Regions from separate parts of the Homo sapiens genome. Here region 2 is linked to region 1. The links come from fine-mapping of genetic effects on gene expression. Tissue or cell type: lymphoblastoid cells. Region 1 holds a variant in brackets; the other region holds the start of a gene. All regions are shown on one strand. Distances are from middle to middle.

Region 1 (8,103 bases):
TGTGCTCAGGGGTGAGAGGTGCTATGAAGACTCCAGCTCAAGTGGAGAGTTGAGCACATGTGGGGACAGGGAAGAGGGCACTGTGGAGGAGGCGCAGGACTGGATCCAACAGGGCCCAGAAGCCAGCAGGGAGGAGCTCCTACTTCATCCCATGGGTTTATTAGGGAGTCACTAAGGATTCTTGAGCAGGATAATTATGACCCCAGGCAACATGCTCAGAAAGGACAAGGAGTGAGATACCAGAGAAAAGGAGACTGGTCGGAAATTCAGTTGCCAGGAACGTAGCGGTGCAAGGAGGAGGAACACAAAAGGCAGGAGGATCAGATGCCAAGGGTCTTATGGGAGCCCAACGGGGGCACAGTGAGAAGGGAAGAATGAAGACAAGTGACCCTGGGGGGTCACACTCAGGCATATTTCTCAATCAAACCTCCTGCACTTCTTGAGTGACAAAGATGACTTGCCTCCAAGACTCTGCATTGCAAGAACAAAGAGAAAAGCTGATATGACAAAATGCTTAGAATTATGTCTTTGATGTATGAACACTCCTCGCCCCCTGGACCCTGATAAACAGAGTTCACCCCAGAATCCCTTGATGTATCCAAAGTGCACATCTTTAATAACAAGAGGTCTCTGAAGGTAGATTTCCTCTTCCATTTGTGGAGCTATTTCAATTTTTAGGGGCTTGGAGATGCTTCCGATTAATTGTTAAGTTAGCCTTTTGAGACCTCAATTTATATGCAGCATTGACCAGTGTCTGCAAATAATCTGAGCAGAGGAAGGAATAGATCCTTAGGAAATTAATGTAATCGTTTCAGCTCATTATTTGAAGAGCATATTCTCAGAGCCCAGAAACTTCATTCATTCATTCAAAATTGCTCTGAAATCCAATTAAAATCAGGGGTCACACACAGAACCATTGTTTATTTCTTCATTACTGAGATGGGAGAGTAGACTTTAAAACTGCAGAAATCTAAGGAAGGTGAGGGTGGAGCCGTGGGAAATCAGGGAGGGTCCCTGGTGAAGCCAGAAAGCTAAGGATGTGAACATTCCGGGGGCGTCATGGAAAGGCACACGCACCGATGCTCCTGGAAAGGCAACATTTCAACAAGAATATGAATCCCATCTTTAATAAATAGTTTTTAGTCCTTCAGCAGATATTAAACATCCTTTTTCGGACCCACGAACTCTAACGCCATGCAAAAGGAAGCCCAAAACCAAAAAACAAAGAGTAGAGAATTACCTCCCAGAGGTAATTCTGCCAGAAGTCTGAAGATATGTGGGAAGGAAATGTGATTCATTTATTCATGTGTCCTTTTAACAATATCCATAGAGATCTTACCTAAACTACAGCAGTGAACAAATCAGACAGTCTCTCTGCCCTGGAGTAGCTTTCATGTGGGGGCAGGAGGTGGGGTTGGGGGCATGGGCATGGAAACAGACCATGAACAATAGACAAAGTAAACAGGTAAAGCATATGGTACATTAGAAGGTGATCAAGTGCCATAGCGTTCAGGAGACAAACCTTCAAGGCAAGAAGTCAAGAACTTCTGGATGGGCAAGAACAAAACAGGAAAAGAAAGCAGAGCCCAGAGCTGGTCACCACCAGGTGCTCCTGGGCCATTCATAGGTCCCAATCAGCTCCTCTCAAAAGTAGCTTCAGCACCCCAGGAAATAAGTTGAAATTAAAACATCAGAAGAGGGTGTCCCACAGCAGCCCTGCTGGTCCCCTGAGCAACAATTACATTCCACAGGAAAGGACTTCAGCACAGCCCCAAATCATGCCCCTGTACCCAGAATCTCTCCCCAGCCCTGCACTCTCCTCCTCTCCAGGGGCTGGTTTGGGCCCCCTTGGACAGAGGGAGTGATGAGGCCTTAGTCTGAAAGTCAGTCTTAGGGGACTTGTCACACAGAGGGGAGATCTCACTGGAAGCCAGATCCTCAGGATGTCAGAGACTCAAACACCCAGCAGGTCTGAGAATAGCTCCCAGAGAGGCAGTATGGTGTCCCGGACAGAGTGCCCCTGTCTCCTTCCCCACTCCTCCACCAAGCTGGAAACCAGGGGAGTCCTGCTTGGCCAGGAGCCTGCTGGGACACATGGACCAGTCCACTCCCCTCTCTTGTCTCAAGTCCCTCTGTTGTAAAATGAGGAGGCTGATTGGGTGGCTTTCTGACCAAGGTCAGCATACCCTGGAACTGGGGCATGGGGAAGTCCTCATGCCCCCTCCAAAGCCAGCCTGCCCCTGGGGAGAAAGGGCCAGATGGGAGGGCTGCAACTCCCCGCTGCAGAACAGCTCCCCTTTTCTTTGTCTTACATATTGAGTTTCCTTCTAAGGTTTAATTTTTTAAAGAATGTTGCTGCTAGATAGATGTTTGAAAGCCACTTCTAGTGTTCTGAGACAAATACCTTTGAAGAGACGGGACAAAGACCAAAGTGTTTTTCCCTCTACCCCCACACCACCCAGGCACTCAAGACAATACTTCTGACACCAGATGCATGGGAGGGTTTTCTCACACACCACGCAATTCTGTAGGTGATTCTCTAGCAGACACCAGCTGGGTGTCCTCTTCTTCAATTCAGTTCTGACACTGTCTACCTGGAGAGAGCATCAGATCCCACAGGACTGCTCCCACTCCAGATGCCAATCATAAATAGTGGGTTGCCACCTATGCTTCTGATGGACCCACTATAAATGAGGGTTCCCACAGCCCCCTCCTTGGGTTCGATTAATCTGCTATAGCAGCTCACAGAACTCAGGGAAACGCTTTACTTACATTTACCAGTTTAATCCAGGTGAAAGAGATCCACAGAACAAGGCATGTGCCCCCATCCTGAGGCTATTTAGGGGCCACCAGCCATCTCAGAAGCAGACAAAAGACACTCATATCCCTCTAGAGATTCCAGGGCTTCAGGATCTCTTGCCAGGAAAGGGAGATGAAGACCAAATGTATATTTCACAGTATCAGAGTACCTGAGTATATTTCACCACCATTAAACAAGAGGTGATGCATGACTCAGCTCCATCAGAGAAGTAAGAAGACTCGGGGCGAAGAAGGCCCTGTGCCTTTCTCTGGCACACTGGAAGCACCTGCTTGTGTACCAGCTTCTCACCAAGACCCCTGTTGCCAAAGCAACCAAGTTTGGCTTTTCCTGCCCAAAGCACGCAGGCATCCTTGAGCAGGGGAGAGGTGGAGCCAGGCATGCACCGGGAAACCACCACATACCATGTCCAATGGCTGAGCCCTTTGAACTCTCAAGGTTGCTAAATGGTACCTGAGTCCAGGACTCCCACCAAGACACCCAACTCCACAGACAGACAAGTTAATAAATCACAGCGTGAATCCC[C/T]TTCAGAGGGTGGCTGTGTGTAAAAATAGAGAGGGCACCACAGCTTCCTGCCCACCTTTTCCTGGTGTCCCTGGAATCATTCATTACAACCACAGGGCAAGAGTCCGTGGTGGCAGAGATGAAGAGGCTCAGTGGCCTGGCTCCACCTCCTCACTTCACAGAGACACTGAGGTCACTCAGGGACTCAGTGCCTCGCTGCACTCACACAGAGACTCAGGAGTCAAAACCAGTTAAAACCAGGCCTCAGGTCTCCCTACTCCCACGCCACCTTGAAGGACACACCCCCCAGAAACCACAGCTCACTCCTTTTTCAGGACTTCATAGTCAAGAAACAAGCCCTGCCAATCCTATGCTCAAAAGTCCCCAGGCTGAGATGCAGGTCTTTCAGGTGGGCACCAAACTTTGGTCTGGAATCTTGAACTCATTTCAAAGTGTTTCTCAAGATGGTTCTTGTATAATTTCCACCTTAGCACAAACTAATAGCTCCTCATTGCAATTCCTCTGCCTCTGCAGCCATTTACCACTGCATTGACCTTTGCTTCTAGGTTAATTATCAATAGTTTTGTCTATTGAAGAAATTGAACTGAATTAGCTTAGTTTTAATCTCTCATCAGTAATTCAAATGACCATTTCCCACTGATGAAAAATAAAACTATCCGCGGGGGTGGGTGCAGGAGAGCCACCAACTCCTAACAAGGCTTCACCAGGCAGGGAGGGGCATGGCCCTCACCAGTAGGCATCAAAGCCGTTCCCCTGGCGTCCCATGCTTGAGTGCCCTCGGTCTGGACTGGACTTGTGCCAGGGAGCACGGAGGATGTCCCAGGTTGGTCCGGCCCTGTCTGACAGCCCATTAGCTCCAGCTGTCGGTGACATCTGCCTGCTCTGATTACCGTCAGAGCTGCGGAGAAGCAATGGCCCCCAGCATCGAGCTGTCTCCCCCTGTGCTCAGCTGTCATCAAGTATTGTGTTTCCACCTCAAGGCACTCAGAACCCATCCCCGGCTGCTATTTATAACCTTCCTTGAGGTCGCCTGCCGGTGAGGCTGCAGAAGGGGTGTGCCACTTCAGGGCAAAAGGCCCCAAACACCACCAACTTCCTGCCACTGCCTCCAGGTGAGAAGCAGGCAACTTCTGAGCTGAGCAAAATCAATTCACAAAAGTACATGCAGCATCAGGTCAGCTTCCACTGCGCTCCATGGCTGGGGACTCCAGGCTACATGAGAGGGACACTGAGACTAGGGCAGCTTGCGATGTCACCAGAGGCCTGGAGAGATGGATTCAGATGGCGCCACATGGCTCCATGCTCAGCCTGACAGGACTGCCTCTGATATCTAAAAAGATGCCACAGTGATTGCAAAGGGACTGAAAATCCCAGCCTTTGACTTGTGCTGAGCCACCCATGTTAGTTTCCTGTGGCTGCCATAACAAAGGACCACAAACTGGGTGGCTTATAACGACAGAAATGATTCTCCCACAGTTCTGAAGCCCAGAAGCCCAGAATCCTGCCACACCAGACTCCCTCCAGGGACCCTAAGGGAGAAGCTGCCTTTGCCTCTTTCAGCTTCTGGTGGCCATCAGCATTCCTTGACTTGTGGCCGCATCACTCCAACCTCTGCCTCTGTGGCCACACTGCCTCCTCTTCGTGTGTCTTCTCTGTGTCTCAAATCCCCCGTTGGCCTTTCTCCTACAAGGACACTTGGATGCAGGGCCCACCTAGGTAATCCAGGAGTATCACCCCATCTCAAGATCCTTAATTTAATTTCACCTGCAAAACTGTTTTTCCAAATAAAGTCACACACACTGGGCTCAGGGACGTAGATACATCTTTTGGGGGACCACCTATTCAACCTAGTCTATACCCCAACCTAAGGGAATAAAACAAGAGTCTGGCTTTTAGAGTCAGGAAGCACTGGGTTTGAATCCCACCACTGCCACTGACTTAATAACTAAAATTCTGTCTTTTCTTAGGATGTCACCAGCACCCAGTGTGATTCCAATAACAGGGCCCAGCAGGGCAGGGATCTGAGAACAGGCCTTGCCCTCCTCCCCTCTCACCACAGAAGGCCCAATGGCACGCCCAGTGACAGTCCCGCCCCAGGCCCAGATGGGAGCAGGAACTTTGTGGGTCCGTAAAGACGGCCTGCAGAGGAGCCATTTGCTTTCCCCACTCCAGGGAAGCAGCACTCTGTCACCTCTTATGATACCGCATCATCCTCGGCTCTGGGACCTGGCTGCCTGCCTGCTTGTTTCTGCCTCAGCGCCCCCAGCAGCACCAATAGGTCTCCATCCAGGCTTTGTTTGCTTTTAATTACTAAGCCAACTAAGTGAGCCCCCAGCACAGACACACCTGGCTGCCTCTGACAGGTAATGAATCGTTCAACCATGTTCAAGGACAGGCCTTCCTGACAGCAGCGGGGCGATCAACTGAACAAAGTCAGGGTGAGCTGGGAGGGCAGAGAATATTGACTAAGGAGTGTCGCGGATGCCTGCCTCCCAACACTGCCCCTGAGCTCAGCTGATATGGATGCAGATAGTCTTGGGACCACAAGTTTCTGACGAGGAGGATTGATTTCTCTAGGAAAATGGAGAGTGGACACTGTGCAAATACTCTCTTATATATCAGCACCAACATGGAGATCCTTTAAACATCACTTTTCAGTGACCAAAAGAAGAGTTTTTCTTAAGACCAGAGAGAAGACATCCAAGTCTGTGGACTCCTCTTGTATGATTTTCCTCCACAGGCTGAAAAGACCTACAAAGCCATGGGTTTCTTCCACACTATCTCACCCCAAATTCTGTACATTGCACACAAGGCTGGTCACACACCTCTCTGGAGCCATCCTCAAGCAGAAGAGGGTCATGTTCAACAACCCAGGGTTGACAAAGGACAGAGCATGAGGCATGGGCACAACTGGGGGTCTTGCAGGCTATAAGGATCAAGATTTGCCTCAAAACTTGAGAGGTCAGCCACACCCTGTGCGTCAGTAGCTATCCCAGCCCCCTGGGCAGGAGAGAGCTGCCAAGAAATGCTGAACACTTGGTATCTCCTGGGTCACAAAGCCATCGAGGGAAGCCAGAGGGTTGGCCACCCCAACTCCTGTCCCTGGCGGCAACATGGAAACTCCACCCCGGTGGACACAGACCATTGGGTTGGGGACATATGGTCAGTGTTCAGTCACCCTCCTCTGCTGTGTGTTAAGCTGGGGAAGATTCCCTAGGGGAGGACAAGGGCCAGGAACAAGGAAGGCTTCGTGTGAGCTGGTGGGTCTGGTGGCTTCCTGGGGAACCAAAGACACCAGGGCTGGGAAGGGAAAGAGCAAGTGCGCTCTTGACACCTTTCTTATAAAAATTCTAAGTACATATGTATAGGTATACATACACACATGTGCCTAGTGGATCCTAAAGTTTGCGCACTAAAGTGTTCACAATGCTTCACCCTCAGTGACAGGATTTTTCACTGTGCTTTGTCTCTATTTTCCAAATTTTCTACAATATACACCATATTACTTTTATAATGTGAAAAAGTGCTATTTTTTAAAAACTGTACAAATGCAAAGAATTGGCACTCTTAATCTCAGATCGCTACATCCGTTCTGTAGGAACGAGTGCCCTATTTGTCAACTTTTTGTAACAGACTGTGCCTAATTAAATTCTAGAGAAAACCCAGTCACACCCTCAGCCAATTCTGCATCAGGCACTATGGGCACCGTGATCCTCCAGGCCCAAGGGGGACACCGGACTGCTGGTTCTCTCCTCTGCAAACGCTGGAGCCCCAACACCACTATTTATCCCATTTAAGAATAACCAAAAGTACAAAATAGATTTCATAAATCACTTAGTCTTTACAGCTTGCTCCTCAAGGACATGCATGCAGGCTTCTAGCAAAGATGATGCAAAATAACAAGACAGATGTAGTAACCAATACGAAGTGCTTGCTTCACTAAACAAAGAGCTTTTGATGCTGTAACTCAATTTGCGTTGGCATAATAGGATCTGAGTGGGGCTAAGAGGAGCCACATAACAGCGGGCAGGCAGCCTCACCAGCAGAGGGGAGCATGGAAACACACGGCAGAGCCTCCCGGGGCCACGTGCTTCTCATCTGGGACCTCCGAAAGGCACCATTTCTTCAGGTAATCCTCAGAGGGATTGCTCATGTTCCTCCAAGAAAAGGCTCAAACAGCTTGGCATGGTGCCTCACGCCTGTAATCCCAGCACTTTGGGAGGCCAAGGTGGGAGGATCACCTGAGGTCAGGAGTTCAAGTCCAGCCTGGCCAAAACAGCGAAACCCTGTTTCTACTAAAAATACAAAAAAATAAAATTAGCCGGGTGTGGTAGCATGTGCCTGTAGTCCCAGCTACTCAGGACTTGCATCGCTTGAACCGGGAGGCAGAGGTTGCAGTGAGCTGAGATCGCGCCACTGCACTCCAGCCTCGGCAACAGAGTGAGACTCTGTCTCAAAAAAAAAGAAAAGAAAGAAAAAGCTCAAACATTTCATGGTTGTTTGTGGAACCAAAACCCAAACCAAACAGCTCTTCCTTCCCTGTGCCCTGCTCTCCCATTCATTTATTCAGCACCTGCTCTATATTGAGCACTTACTGTGTCCACCAAAGTGAGTAGGGAGAAGAATTAGACACAGTTGCCAACACTCAGGCTGACAGGTGCTTTCCTTGTGTTGTCAGGGGGAGAGAAAGGGTTCATGGTTTTGCTGCCCCTGCTGCTCTGAGAGTGGTAGAAAAGAACCAGAACTGCTGGCTCCCAAAT
Region 2 (8,103 bases), 210 kb before region 1:
AAAATAAGCTAATATCTGTGCTATTATTTATCTGTATTTAGAATTACAGAGGTATTACAGGTTAGTATGATGTAACATTCCAAATACTGACTTGCTTTTTGAAGAAAGCTGAAAAAGCATGAAATAGGAATGCAAATTGTTAGGGAGAAATAGGTATTCATATGAAAATACCAAAATCTGCCCCACCCAGAGAACGCACACAGGCATGTAAGCTGTCTTTATTGACCAAGTTCATAGGCCAGAGAGAAGCAATCCCATTAAACTGGCAATGGGTTTAATACAAACTTCTCTTTCTATTCCAGGAAACAGCCCTGTTGGGAAGAATGGGAATTCTGGCCCTCAGAGTTTCGGTGGCATTGTTCATCCATTCTCTCTCTCAGCCTCTCTCCCAGAACTTGGTAACTTTACCAGACTAGCCATTAAGGATTAGCCATACAGAAATGGCTTCTTTTTGTAATCAACAGGACCAGAAATTACAAAGATGATTTGGCAGAACCAAGCAATGCCACCCAGCCTTGAAGAGAACAGTCAGATTTGTGACCCTGAAGCATCTGCATTCTCAACCTTTCCAAATGAAAAAGTGTCTGCCCTACACACACTGTAGGTGTGTAGCATTTCATACATGGCATGTTGGCAATCAACATATAAAAATCAACTGGGATTCTGGAATTCCAAATACTGACTGAATACAACGTGGAATTCTCTTCTGCATGTCTGCTCAAATTTAAAGGGGGAAAAAAAGCCACATCAACCCCAGCGTGAAACCAGGAGGCTGTACGGGAACCTCTCAAAGGCTTACGACCCTAGTTTTGATATGTGAGTGTTTTAGAAAAAAAGAAAGTGGTACAGATTTCCTAAGACAGTCCCTAAAACACCAACCCAGGGAAATTAGGCATGGAGATATAGCAAGCTAACGTTGCAGCAAGCCCTAATGAAGTTAAATTGCATTTCCTATTAATTATCTACTCTATATCATTAGTTAATTCTTCCCCAACACTTGATAAATTAGATGGCTACATTATTCTATGTGCCATGTATAAATCTCTATTCCTATTTACTCTGACGTTTAACACAGACACACATGTGACTTCCAATAACCTTTATCCTTACAACCTTCAGCTCATACCTCTTAAGAACCACATGCTCTTGATTGCAGTTCTATTTTATTGGAAATTCCATGCCTTATGTTATGCATTGAGACAGAAAATGTAAAGAAAGATGTGCTCTTGAAATATCTAATTGCATTAAGCTAGGAAGCACACAACTAACCGCACATAAGCAACTCAAGAAGGTTGAGTTTGCAGAGAAACACTCAAACAAGGCAAGGTAGGAGTTAAGGTAGTTTTATGAAACAATGACTATTCAATGCTAGTCTCTGAATATAGTGTTAAGTCAAACAAAAGATCATAACGTGAAGGTCACATTTAAAAAGTCCTACGGCCCTTAGTAAAAGGAAAAAAAGTCCTCAGTGACTGACTGGTCATGGTGGAAAAATCCAACCTCCTCTTCCCTCACCCACCTCCAGGGCACAGCCGAAAGGATAAAAGTTCTCCTAATACCCAGAAAAACAAGCTGGCCTTTTCCAGAAGAAAAAGAGCTTTCCTAGAATCAACAAAAATTGAGGATGATCATAAAAGTCTAAGAGAGAAAAAAGCACTAGGACAACTCTAACGAGCAATTTAAATACATTACATCAAAGTGGACTATTTTCTTATGTGAACTTTGGCTCAGTCTGAAGTCTTTGGAGAGGGTGGTGCCTTTTTTTCCTAGGATGGGAGGGAAAAAGCGAACATTTAGCAGAGTATGGCAGAAATGGTCTAGTGATGCTGCAGTGCCTCCTTCTCACAACGCTAAGATGGGAAGCAGACACGTGCCCTGTAGGGCATCTGCTCGTATGTCCGGCTTGAGCTCCTGCCTGAGAGTTGCTGTGGCTCTGGAGTCTCAGAAGCTGCATCACTCACACCTCCGACCATTCCCTTCCCAGGTGGACCCCCCGCCAACCAGACCCAGAGTCTGTCCTGGGGGCCAGAGGGGCAGGCACAGAAACTGGCGCCTGGCTCCCAGGATTAAGAAGACACTATTAAAAAGCATCGCTGGTTTCCCCTAAATTTGGCAGTAGGAAAATAACTTAGGACTTTCAAGAAGAGTCCTAGTCGCTCACTGATCCGTCTTTTCCCCTCACAGATTGTGACACAGGCCCATTCCCGGTGAACATTTTGGCTGGCAGTTACTTCACCACCTATTGAAATTCTGTTTACGTTTGGCCCAGAGAACCTGGACGGATGTTTGTATCTCGGGGGCCCCATCTAGTACAATTCCTGGTGCACAGGCTTGCAACAAATTTACGAAGGTAACAGACCAAGCTGCCGGCGCTGTTTTTCACTGGAGGAAAGCTCGGCGGAAGCGACACCTAGAGGGGAGCGGCGGGCTGTGGCCGCGCCATTCATCAGTGTCGGCGGCCCGCGGCCGCGAGCGAGGGCTGCTGGACAGCGCCCCGGCACCCGCTCTCGAGCCGCGACACCGACCTCGCCGGGCCCGCCCCGCTGACCCGCGCACTCCTAGTGCACTTGCCGCGCCGCGCGGAGGCTCGCCGCGCTCTGGAAAACAAGAAACCCCACTGCCTCGGCGGCTTTCCGCTCCCGCAAGAGTTGCGGGCACAAAGTCCTCAGGTGGCAGGCCTGGGGTTGGCGCCGCTTTGTCGGCTGCAGGGAGCCCCAAAGACTAGCGTCAGCTCGTCCCCAAACTCGAGGCGACAGGCGCCGAAAGCAGAGTGCTGTGCCTGCCTCGTCCAGGTCCCTCCTGAAACTCAGAACTCGTCTTTGTTTTGCGGGCGCAAAGAGGGCGGAGATCATCCACAGTGCAAGCTCTCTTAGGACCAAGCCCCCAGCCCGAACGCTGAACGCCCCCAACACACTGCTCCCTAGACACGTTCAAGCGGGTACCCCGGGCCGCTCACTCTGGACCGCGGCCGGCTACGCACAAGCAGCGCCGCAGGCTGCCTGGAGTCGGGTCGTGCCCTGATTCCTTCCTCCCCAGCCTCACATGCGGCGGACCCCGGGGAAGCCAGGGCCAGGCGAAGCGCAGCGGGCCCTTTGGGCTGCAGCGAGGAGACGCAAGTTTCCCCGCAAAGCCGCGGGGAGGAGGTGCTGAGAATGCCTGCCCGGCGCCCCAACCCGGAGCCAAGGGCACCGGGCCCGGGCCGAGGGGCCGCGCTCGCCTGGCTCCGCCGGGGCCGCTCGGGGTCCTGAACCCAAGAACGGCGCCTGCAGGATTTCGGAGCCGGGCGCGAGCTGCGGGCTCGGCCCGAGCGCTTCTGCGTGGCGCCCCGCGTGCCAACCGGGTCACTCCGGTCCCCACCGTAGACCCCGGCCACGAGCCTCGGCGTCCCAGCCTCTCCTCGAGTCCTGGCCTTGGCCGGGGTAGCCCTGCCGAGCCCTGGCCCAGCGGTCCCTTCCCCGCGGGCAAACTTGGCTTTCCCGGCGCGGGCAGTAAGGACAAGCAAGCGCCCGCGCCGGGCCCTGCAGCAAGATGCGGGGCCGCGGGCGCCAGGACCCCAGTGGGGTGCAGCGGGACCGGCTGGTGGCGGCGCCAGCGACATGGCACCCTCCCCGCGCCCGCTGGGAGCTGCGCCCGCGTACCTGAGACGGCCGGGGCCGAGGGGAAGACCAGGTGGCCGGACTTGGGCGGGAGGGAGGGAGCACCCCGTGGCGGCGGCGGCGACCCCGCCCCGCGTCCTTCGGCTGGTTTCTCGGGCTGTCGGCGGGTCCCGGGCTCGCTGGAGGCTGTTGAGGCTCCAGCTCCCTGAGCCGCCGCTGCCCGCTGCTGTGCCACCGCCGCCGCGGCTGCCCTATTTCTGCCGCCGGGACCGGAGCCCGTGACGTCACCCTCTGGGCCCCGCCTGCCCAATCGCCGCCACCTGTGCGCGCCGCCCGCCCGCCAGCCGGTCAGACCCGCGCGGCGGCCACGGCAGGTGCGCGGAGCAGGCGGGCGCGCACGCGGGGCGCGATGACTCCGGAGCGCTGGGGCCATCTAGGGCCCGGAGGGAGGAGGGCCAGCGTAGCGCTCCTGCCTCTGGCTAGCGTGGAGCTCGGCAAGTGACAGCCCCTCTTCACCTCTGCTCTCCTCCAGGCTCCTTTCCGGGCCAGGTTCCCCAAAGCTGTGCTCTCCAGGCGCACAGGGGGTCTCTGAATCCGCGGCCATTGCTCGTGGAGTCCAGGCGGGCCGGTACACCACAGCAGGAGAGCTGTCCCTGGGGACAAAGTGGGTGAAATCCCCCGCCGTTGAGACCCAACAACCTGGGAAACAGCAAAGGTTTTCTCTTTTCTGAATCTTCCCTCTTCCAACTACAGAATCTTAAGACATTCAGGGCATACAGGGGCAATCCCAAGTGACATTTGCCTACCTGACCTAGCTGGGCCCAGAGGGTCCCTTCTCCCTTAGAACAGGATATTTCCCCATCCTGATCCCATCCCCAAGCCTGGGGCTCCCAAACTTTTCTGAATCCCTCTTTAACATCAGCAGCTTTTGAGATCAGTCTTCCTTCCCGAATGAACTGGAAACACCTTTGTAACAACTAGGGGCCCATAAATGGTCATACGTAGCCTCAGTCTGGCAGGAAACTTAGGAGGGAGCCCCTACCCAGGCCAGGCTGATGGCCAGGAGACTTTCTGAGGGCCTGCCTCCTGCTCTGGCTGCGTGGGCACCAGGGGCCTTCCTGGCTTAGGTGAACAGTGTTCTGTCCATGCCTCTGTAATCTCTCCTGGCCGGGGGGAGGTGACAGAGGGGATTTTTCTGAGGATGAAGTTAGTTAAATATAAGGAAAAGGGGAAGAATAATGGAAGGCTGACCTGAAGAAAGAGATATTACGTTTGTTTTTTCCTTCCACAGATTTTCCTGCCGCTGAACCCCTCCAATGCAGCAGGCACTGTGCTATTAATAGTTGCTAGAGATACAGCAGTGAATGGGCCAGCGCGGTCTTGGCATCACACAGTTTTGGTCTGGGGTCCAGCTCTCCCTCTATCACTGCCAAGCTATGTAATGCAGAGCCAATCGTATCTCTACTGTAGGTATCAGTTTCCCCACTTGTAAAATGAGGGGTTGGACAAAACCTGGTTGACTTCCCATGTGGATACCATGATTTTTACTCAGAAGGATAAAGGCTACTACATCCTCAGTGACCCTGGGCCCTAGCCAGTGTGATCCTCTCTCAGATTTGACTATGAATCTTTGCCAAGGCCACCATGACTGAACTTCTGGGGCTGGCTAGGGGCCAGATTCTCCATGGCAGGACTGGGGAAGGGATGGCACTTTTCATCTTGGGAAACAGAAAAGAGAAAATGAGTATAAAAGGAAGCAGGGAAGTTTGGAAATGTGCTGTGCCTCCCTCTGAAATGTAATTCTAAGTCTGTGGTCAGGAACGTACACCATGGCTTAGAGGCTGGATTCGGCTCTCCTCTAAGACATGAGGTATTTGGAAAAGCAGATTTCTATTCTCAGCTCTGATCACAAAGTCCCTGAGTCAACCTAGTGGCCTTATTACATAATCAAAGCAGGACTTTGTGTATTTTTTGTTTTTTAGTAACTCAAGGTCATATGTAAATCAGGGTCTATAGGTTGACCAAGATCAGAAATAGCTCTGTTTAATGCAGTGAACAGGCACTGAACTTCTACACGCTTCCCAAAGAAGGAGAAGAAGGTAGTTGCTGCAAACCAGATGTATGGAATATTCCTTAGAGAGAATGCTAACATCTGAAGTGAGCTGTTTAACTACTGTGCATAAAATAAGAGTGAAATTAAAAGTCACCTCGGAATGAGAAAGGTGAAGTGTGAATGACAAAATAAAACAAGGCTCCAGGGAAGCAGCATCAGATGCCAGTAACCTTGACACCTCTTTGAATTGCTCTGTGCTTTTACCTCTCAGTGTAATTTTTTGTTTAATAGTACACCCCAAATTGGAAAATAGGCTAGATTTCACACTGAGAATTTCAAAATTTGCCTGAAACCCTGTTTCAGAACTTGCAAGCATACTGATTCTCAATAGCCAACTAGGATTCTTAGGGGAAATAATGGTTAAGTTTTGAACTTCATGTAATTCAATAAGCTTGGAATAGGGGAGCTAAAAGGAAACATAAATTCCAGTTACTGCCCCCCAGCCCCACTCTGTTTTTGGTGAGTGGTTCAGCCAGAGACACACATAAAAACATTATTAATATACTTTTACAAGATCAAAAAGTTTAAGCAACCCAAATATTTTTTTACGTTGCTGGTTTAAAATCTTTTTTCTATTTCTAATCCTTACCAAAAACACAACAATATAATGAAAAACTACTGCCAAATGATGTGTGTCTCTTAGGACATTTCAGATTACACCTGCATATCAGGATACTCAGAGATGACACATAGCCATGGGAATCAGGAGGAAGCAAGGCACTTTCTCCAGATCCAACCAAAAGTATCTGCATCACTAACTGTGGGTCAGCTTACCCTTGGGAGTCCCCACTAGGCTGGTCAAACAGTGCCTAGAAATACCCATTAGAAGCCAGACTGGGAAGTCATGTGAGAAGGTGGGAAAAGGCAGGAAAGAGTCTTCCTTGTCTTGCATAATTTAACGTTCTGCTGCCTGTTCAAAAAATGTTTTTGTAAATCTTCAAACCAAACCATGCAGTTTACTGAAGAGCCAGCCCTGTGCTTAGGAGAGCCCTGGATGGGAGGCACAAGGATGGGGTCTCTCTCCCGCCTCAGCCTCTAGGGCTCAGTGAGCCTGGGAGAGTCACACCTTTCCCAGAACTTGTTTTCTCTTAAGTGGGAATTGGGAATGGGTACATGGGAGGCAGTCATACTAAACGACATGTCTAAGGCCATTTTCAGTTCTAAAGGTCTATGCCTTTATTTTGCCTGTATTTATAGAAGTTCAGTTATTCTGATCTAAACAGAGCTATGATGTTGAAGTTTTCCTCTAAGTCTAATATTAATGCTTATTTTTAAGATGATAATTCATTAATCACCTAGAAATTAAGGGAATGTAGGCAGTAAGTTCAAGATCCTAGACTTAAGATTACACATACATAATTGTTTTTAACTTTATTTCAGGGAGAAAAGTAGCTAGCATGGAGATAAGGTATTCATTCAAGGGACAACTGTGATTGGGGAAATTTTTCGAGACAAAGAAGAAGTGGTATAGAGTAGGAATTTTAATGAAGAAGTTGGGATAAATGAGAAGATGCAGTGATGGAAAGGGAATTGTGAATGGTAAAAATGGAGGGAGATGAACATAAAACCCTCACCATGGCATTGTTACCAAGGCAAATTCCCAGCAAACTCACAGGGGCTGGATTGATGGCACAAGGGGACCAAGAAAGGTGCTGATAACAGGAGGAAACTGAAGTCTGCTACTCTTAAGAATGTATTGTTTACAAGGGATAATTGGGGATGAGATGGCCAGGCCTACAGCCACAAACTATCATACCCTACTGAGTATAGGCAAAAGGGATGAAAGAGGGAACATATTAAGAGGAGAGTGAAAAGAGGGGCCAATTTCCTTTCTTTGAAAGGGACAACATAATTTTTATCATGACCCTGTTTTCCAACTCACCAGTATAGAATCATAAATAATGTGAAAATCTAAATCTATCTATCTATCTATCTATCTATCTATCTATCTATCTATCTAATTTTAAAGGTGAACTGCTACCTTAGGGAGCTTCCATTCTTTCTTTTCCTCTTCTTTTCTTTTTGAGACAGGGTCTTACTCTGTCACCCAGGCTGGAGTCCAGTGGTGGGATCACAGCTCACTGTAGCCTCAACCTCCCTGGGCTCAGGTGATCCTCCCACCTTAGCCTCCCAATAGCTGGGACTACAGGCATGCACTACCATACCCAGGTAATTTTTGTACTTTTTGTAGAGACGGGGTCTCCCTATGTTGCCCAGGCTGGTCTTGAACTCCTGGGCTCAAGTAATTTGCCCCACCTCGGCCTCCCAAAGAGCTGGGATTACAGGCATGAGCTACCTGGCTGGCTGAAGCTTCCATTCTTCTAAATAAACGTTCCTTTCAAATGAATATGCAGTATTATGATGGGTCACCTCAAGGGCTATGAAGACAACTAT

Alleles and levels. Alleles are on the strand shown, and positions count from the first base shown. SD is a standard deviation of normalised expression in the study named.
For the expression in lymphoblastoid cells of the gene that starts at base 3,855 in region 2, allele C in region 1 goes with a higher level than allele T (moderate effect, 0.73 SD a copy in GEUVADIS).

The links. PIP is the estimated chance that this variant, and not a neighbour inherited with it, causes the effect.
Region 2: it holds the start of FSTL4, and the variant in region 1 is fine-mapped to the expression of FSTL4 in lymphoblastoid cells (GEUVADIS, PIP 0.95).

The regions. Positions count from the first base shown.
Region 1 is chr5:133,821,588-133,829,690 of GRCh38, forward strand. It overlaps a transcript of FSTL4 not described here. Among named protein-coding and RNA genes, the nearest start is that of WSPAR, 88 kb to the right of the region's middle. RefSeq lists an enhancer at 3,233-3,282. The variant C/T (reference allele first, on the strand shown) is at 3,344.
Region 2 is chr5:133,608,687-133,616,789 of GRCh38, forward strand. It overlaps FSTL4 (follistatin like 4), which reads right to left and starts at 3,855. Exons shown (of 16, transcript NM_015082.2): 1 at 3,639-3,855. RefSeq lists a silencer at 2,537-2,586.